Linked DNA regions of Homo sapiens: region 1 is linked to region 2. The links come from fine-mapping of genetic effects on gene expression. A gene starts in region 2. The other region holds a variant in brackets. All regions are shown on one strand. Distances are from middle to middle.

Region 1 (3,002 bases), 23 kb after region 2:
AGGAGGGGACCTGGTGTGTCACCTGCCCACCACCTGGCTCATCCCTCAGGCCCACCCTGACCCTACATTACATAGGTTACGTCAGCCTACTGTGGCTGTTGAGCAAAGCATTTCTCCTTTCTGGGCCTCATTTGCACTAGATGGGCCTGTGGTCCCAAAGTAGGTCAGTAGGTTGGGGTTGCTGACACCCCTTGGGTGCAGCTTTGGGACAGATGAGTGGCTCTGTCCTGTCACTGCCCTCTCCCTGCCTGGGGGCTATGTGCACTCCAGACCCCTGCCCAGGCTCAGGCCCATGAGGTATGGAGACACCCTGGCCCCCAGGAGCTGGAGGCACCGCCCACTCCCCTGGCATTCCAGCTTTGCAGGTGACCCTCCTCTACCCAAAGCTCTGTCCCCCTGCTCCCACTCCAGAAGAACTGCGGCACGCGCTTCGGGCAGCCTAGCCACAGGCTTTGAGCGCCTGCATTCCTGGGGGCTGGAGGGTGGGGTGCCAAAGGCCCTGAGCAAAAGCCAGAGCTCCTCTCATCAAAGCCTTTACAAGGTGCTGGGCCCAGAGGCTTTGCCTTGACAGAGTGGCCCAGGGTTTCAAGGGAGGAGGAACCTCCCCCTACCTAGGACCCTTCCTGTGGGGGGTCTACAGAGTCAGGGACAGAAGGGAAGGGACCCACAGGAAGTCACAGTGGTGCCCAGGGATGTGTCAGCCCCCAGCCACGGGGACGCGGGATTCAAGAATGAAGTAAATACAGTCACAGCCCCAAGTGGTGTTAGAGGTGTTTTTTGTCTTTTCTCCCTTTCGTGCTGAGGTGTAGCACACACGGTGCGCCCTACAGCATGGTGAGTTGCTGTATCGTGAACCCTCACGCAGCCATTGCCCCACGCTGGTGTTTTCCATCTGTGCGTCACCCCCGGAGACACCTACACACATAAGGAGGGAGTTGGCCGGGGCACCCCAGCACACACTGGCCTAACTCCAAGGAGGCACCTCATCTCTTCTGGAGCCCCTTCCCACAGGCAAGGGGATTCAGAGGGAGCATGTTGGCCTGGCCGCCTTCAGGCTTCCAGAGTCCCAAGTGACTTTCCTTGATGTCCTTCTCTCCATCCTCTGCACAGAGGCAGCCTTCCCTCCTCTTATCCCTGCCATGGGGTTTGGGAGGGGGAGCCTCAAACTCTGACAGGGAGGAGTCGGAGTCCCCAGCTAAAATTCTCTGGGTCTAGAAACAGGTGTAAAGCGATTCTGGGGATGTGATTTGGGAGAAAAGCACACTTTCCACACAGAGGCGGTCAGGAAAGGAGCGGGGAGGGGAGAGTGGGGCACAGGCAGCGCCTCCCGTCTATGCGCCTGTGTGCAAAGTGGCACAATGCCCCCCTTCCTATTGGCAGTGCAGCCCCTGGCCAGCAACCACTCGCACCTGGGCTGGGGGCCTTTGTGTAGGGCACACCTGTGCAGCCACACCTACTTGTAGAGCCTCATAGACTCAGCTGTGGACAAAAGCCTCACGCCCCAAACAGGGAAATGGGATCTCAAGGGGAAGAAGCTGGGGAGGCCTCACACCCTGCCCCCATTTCCTCCTATGTGGGGGAGGGGAGCAGCACGAACTCCTGAAGACTTGGGAGCGTCAGCAGCTTCTGCGGAAGGG[G/T]TGGGGCTGAGGGTGGAGAGAGGAAGGGAAGGAAGAAAAGGGGAGCCTTCCTGGCCAGGGTAACCGGCACTAAGAGGCCTCACTCCAAGCCCCCGAGGAGCCTGTGGTGGGGCTGGAGACCCGGCTCAGGCCCCTCCACCACCCTTAAAGTCCTCAGAAGGTGGGAACTGAACTGGCACAGGATGGGAACCGGCTGTGCGCTGGCCACTTGATTTTGCCAGCTGCCCTGTAATTCAGCTGGTGAGGAAACTGAGGCACAGACTGAGGTAGAATGATTCGCCAGTCACTCAGCAAGTCAGCAGACGGGGAGGACTGAATCCCAGCCTGAGAGCACCGAAGCTTGTATCCCTGCAATACCGAGCCCCAAGCCTGCGAGCCCCGGTGCCCATCTCTGAGTTAGGCCGTCTTGGAAGGGTTCCCTTCCTCCTACAAGATGGTGTGTGAGGAGCCTTCAATACGACCCGGGGTGTAAAGTGTCCAACTCTAGTAGGGGCCTGATGGCATCCCCGCCGAGTCCCAGGAGAGAGAGAGAAGACCCCTTCCTGGAGTCCAGGGCTCCCGGGAAGAAACACTGGCATTTGTCCCTTTGCTTCGGCTTCTGGAGGCAGAGACTCTGAGCCCAGGGAGAGCCTTCTGCAGCCCCATTTCCTCAAAAATCCAACCTGCCCAGGTGGCGGGTCATGAGCTGTGCTCAGGAAGCTGGAATCTGACCCTGGTGGCGTCGGGCCCAGTCTCCATGGCAGCCGAGCATTTATTACCCGGGCCTCCACCCAGCTTGGCAGACTTTAGACTTGAGGCTGGAGGAAAGGGAACTGAACGCGGTTCTGGGAGCAGCAAGCCCACGGGTAGCAGCCGAGGCCCCAGAATGGTGAGTGTGAGGGTCTGTGTCGGCCTGGCCAGGGCTGGGGGCGTGAACCTCAGGTGGAGCCCTCCCCTGACTGTTTTCCTTTCTCTGCTGCAGGCCAAGTTTCTTTCCCAAGACCAAATTAATGGTAGGTTGGGTTTGTTCTTTGATTAGCAACTCAGCAAAATATGGGTCTCATTAGGCAATTTGCTCTGCTCATGTTTTCTTGGTGGGAAGGAAGGTGGCTGTGGGAGAGCTGGGCCCACCCAGGGCCAAGAGCTGCGGGGAGGCTGCTGTTGGCGGGGTGGGGGTTGGGGGTAAGCCTCCAAAATAGACATGTGGCTTTATACTTGTCAGTGTGACTTACAAGCCAGGGCGCTAAGACAGAACTTACTAGGTTTCCCTCCAGAACCTGACCAGTTGGATTTGGGGACTGAGGGGACTGGGGATGGAGAGAGAGACCATTAAAGGTATGGCTGGCAGCAGGGAAAGAGGAGGGGCTTTGTAATTGAGACAGAACA
Region 2 (2,500 bases):
GTAACCTTTCTGTGGAGGGAAACCTCAGGTCTCGAGACGGGCTATTGTAAATAACTTAGTCCACCAGTGCTGGGCTCTCTGCTAAGAGTTTCATATAGTCATCACAACTCCAATGTAGTAGATGCAATAGGCATCTTCTTGTTACAGATGAGTAAACTGAAGCTGTGAGGGGTTGAGCCATTTGCCCGCATCACAGCTAGTTCAAAGTGGTACCACTAATGAAGTCCTGGCAATCTGCCCTGCAGGCTGTTCTCAGGTTTGACCTTTGGTTCTGTTTTTCACTTGAGGATGCTGTCCCCTTAGGTTCTGTCTGTCTTGTATGCTCCGGTGACTCACGAGCCTGTCCACTGGGTTCCCAGGTCTCGCCTCAGCTTCAGACCACCGGTCCAACAGCCTTCCTGACCCACCTCAAGCTTAATGCGTTCAAAGATGAATCTTTATTTACACGAAATCTGCTCTAGCCCACTTCCCGGGGGGTGCCTCCACTATCCACCCAGGGGCAGAATCCGGCCACTGCCTGAACTCTTCTCCCCTCACCCCCCACATCCAGAGTCCCAGTCACCATACCTCTCACACGACTCTAGATGTCACCAACTCGCTCCTTCCCACTGTCACCGCCAGCCCCTCACTAGAACATCTGCAACCCACGTGCTGCACCACGCGGGTGCTACACGTGCAGGTCTCCAGTCCTGCCTCCTCTCCTCCACCCGTAAGAACAAGGGAAATCCCACAGAACCCTCTGCCCCGGGGAGCATTTAAATCAGCTTAGTCTATCTCCAGGTCGCTACCCCGCCCCAGCCCAACACCCAGGCCTCAGTCACCCTAGACAGAGATTCCCGTACCCAGGCAGGCAAGGGACCCTAACACATCCCAGCCCGCTGGTGGTCACGCGCGCAGCCCGGACAGGCCAGCAGCCCCCGCCCCGCGAGGACGCCACACTCGCAGCGCCCGGCCCTCCCCTAGCGGAGCCCGCCCCGTCTCCCTCCGCCCCGCCTCCCTCCGCTCCGCTCCGCTCCGCTCCGCCCCGCCCCGGGTCCGCAGCCCCGCCTGTTCCTCCCGAGGGCCGCGCGCTCTCGCCGGCCCGCCCCGAACCGCCCCGCGCTGGGAATTTGCGGCGGCCTCCGCCGGGGCAGCCGAGCTGAACCGGTCTCTTCCTCGGAAAGGCAGGGCCGAGGGGCCTGCGGGGCAGCCATGGAGGCGACGCGGAGGCGGCAGCACCTGGGAGCGACGGGCGGCCCAGGCGCGCAGCTGGGCGCCTCCTTCCTGCAGGCCAGGTGGGCGCGCGCCGGGGTGAGAGGGCGGGCTAGGCGCCTGTGCGCTGGGGCCTCGGGACCCGCCACGTGACGCTCCTAGGGCTGCCGGGCGGGAACCTCGTGTGCGGCGCTGGCCGGGGCGGAGCGGAGCGCGGGGGGCTTGGAGGCGCGCTACCGTGGCGGCGGTGCCCCCGCGTTTCCTTCTCTGTCTGGGGAGCCTGGGGCCCAGCGGGGCTCGGCCTCCCCGCTTCGCCGTTGCTCGGGTGGGAGGAGCGCCCGCCCGAAGTTTGGGGTTTTCCTCCCTTCCCGCGTTCCAGCGACCCGGGCTGGCGCCGGGACAGCCGCTGCGCTGGGAGAGCTCCCCAGGGCGGTGGGTACACACACCTCGTCACTCGGACCCCCAACTTATCCGCAAGTTCCGGGCGCCACCTCCGCGTTCTCGGGGTCCCTCCAGCCCTGAGTAGGACTTGATTCTGTCATTTATCAGGAGGCTGTCTGCTTGACCTGGGGCACCCAAGAATGTGCGAATGTAATGGAAGAGACAGCGGGGAAGGGCGGAAGCTGCCGTCCAGAGAATGAATGAGGAGCCCTTCTCAGTTTTTGGTTTATCTCGTTGGGCGAGCAGAGCTCCATTCTACCTTCGTCCCGTTTTACTGACCAGAAACATTCACTGCATTCAGCAGGCATTCTTTAAGCGCCTGTGGTATGCCCAGCGCTGTGCCAGGCAGTAAGGGGGTAGGCAGGGTGAAGGTGGGAGAGGCTTACGGTCCTGTAGGGATCAGGAGAGACAGAGCCCAAGTGGGAGTGAGCGGTCATCTTGGAGGGCTTCATGGAGGAAGTGGCACTTGAGCTGAGTCTCAGAGGACTTGGTAGGGGACCCAGGGAAGACAGGCTGTTCCATCCAGGGAAACAGTGGGGAAGGGCAAGGAGTTTAGTGGTGCTGGAGCTTTCCGGCTGTAAAAGAAAGTGACAGGAGGATGCAGACTGATTGTGAAGGGCCTTTAATTGCAGCAAGTCTAGGACTCGAGTTGAGGACCTAGATTGCAAAACTTAGGGGTAGGCGCACTGCCGTGACCGTGAGTGCCGCCTCAAATGTTGGGCCTTGGAGGCCTTGCTTGTCTCACCCTAGTTCCTGTCCTAGGTGACAGGTTAAGGACACAGTCTTTATCCCATAGGCACTGGGGAGTCGTGAGAAGTTTCTGAGCACTAGCATGCGCAAAGTCCTTGTTAGGAAGTTTTTGGTACGA

The links. PIP is the estimated chance that this variant, and not a neighbour inherited with it, causes the effect.
Region 1: its variant is fine-mapped to the expression of CLN6 in whole blood (TOPMed, PIP above 0.99).

Annotation. Positions count from the first base shown.
Region 1 is chr15:68,204,748-68,207,749 of GRCh38, reverse strand. It overlaps CALML4 (calmodulin like 4), which reads left to right and starts at 2,418. Exons shown (of 5, transcript NM_033429.3): 1 at 2,418-2,505; 2 at 2,599-2,629. The coding sequence starts at 2,503. It overlaps CLN6 (CLN6 transmembrane ER protein), which reads left to right. Exons shown (of 7, transcript NM_017882.3): 7 at 1-758. RefSeq lists an enhancer at 1,425-1,719. The variant G/T (reference allele first, on the strand shown) is at 1,638.
Region 2 is chr15:68,228,276-68,230,775 of GRCh38, reverse strand. CLN6 (CLN6 transmembrane ER protein) reads left to right here and starts at 1,048. Exons shown (of 7, transcript NM_017882.3): 1 at 1,048-1,274. The coding sequence starts at 1,192. RefSeq lists enhancers at 304-353, 1,584-1,663, 1,694-1,763 and silencers at 1,005-1,184, 954-1,543.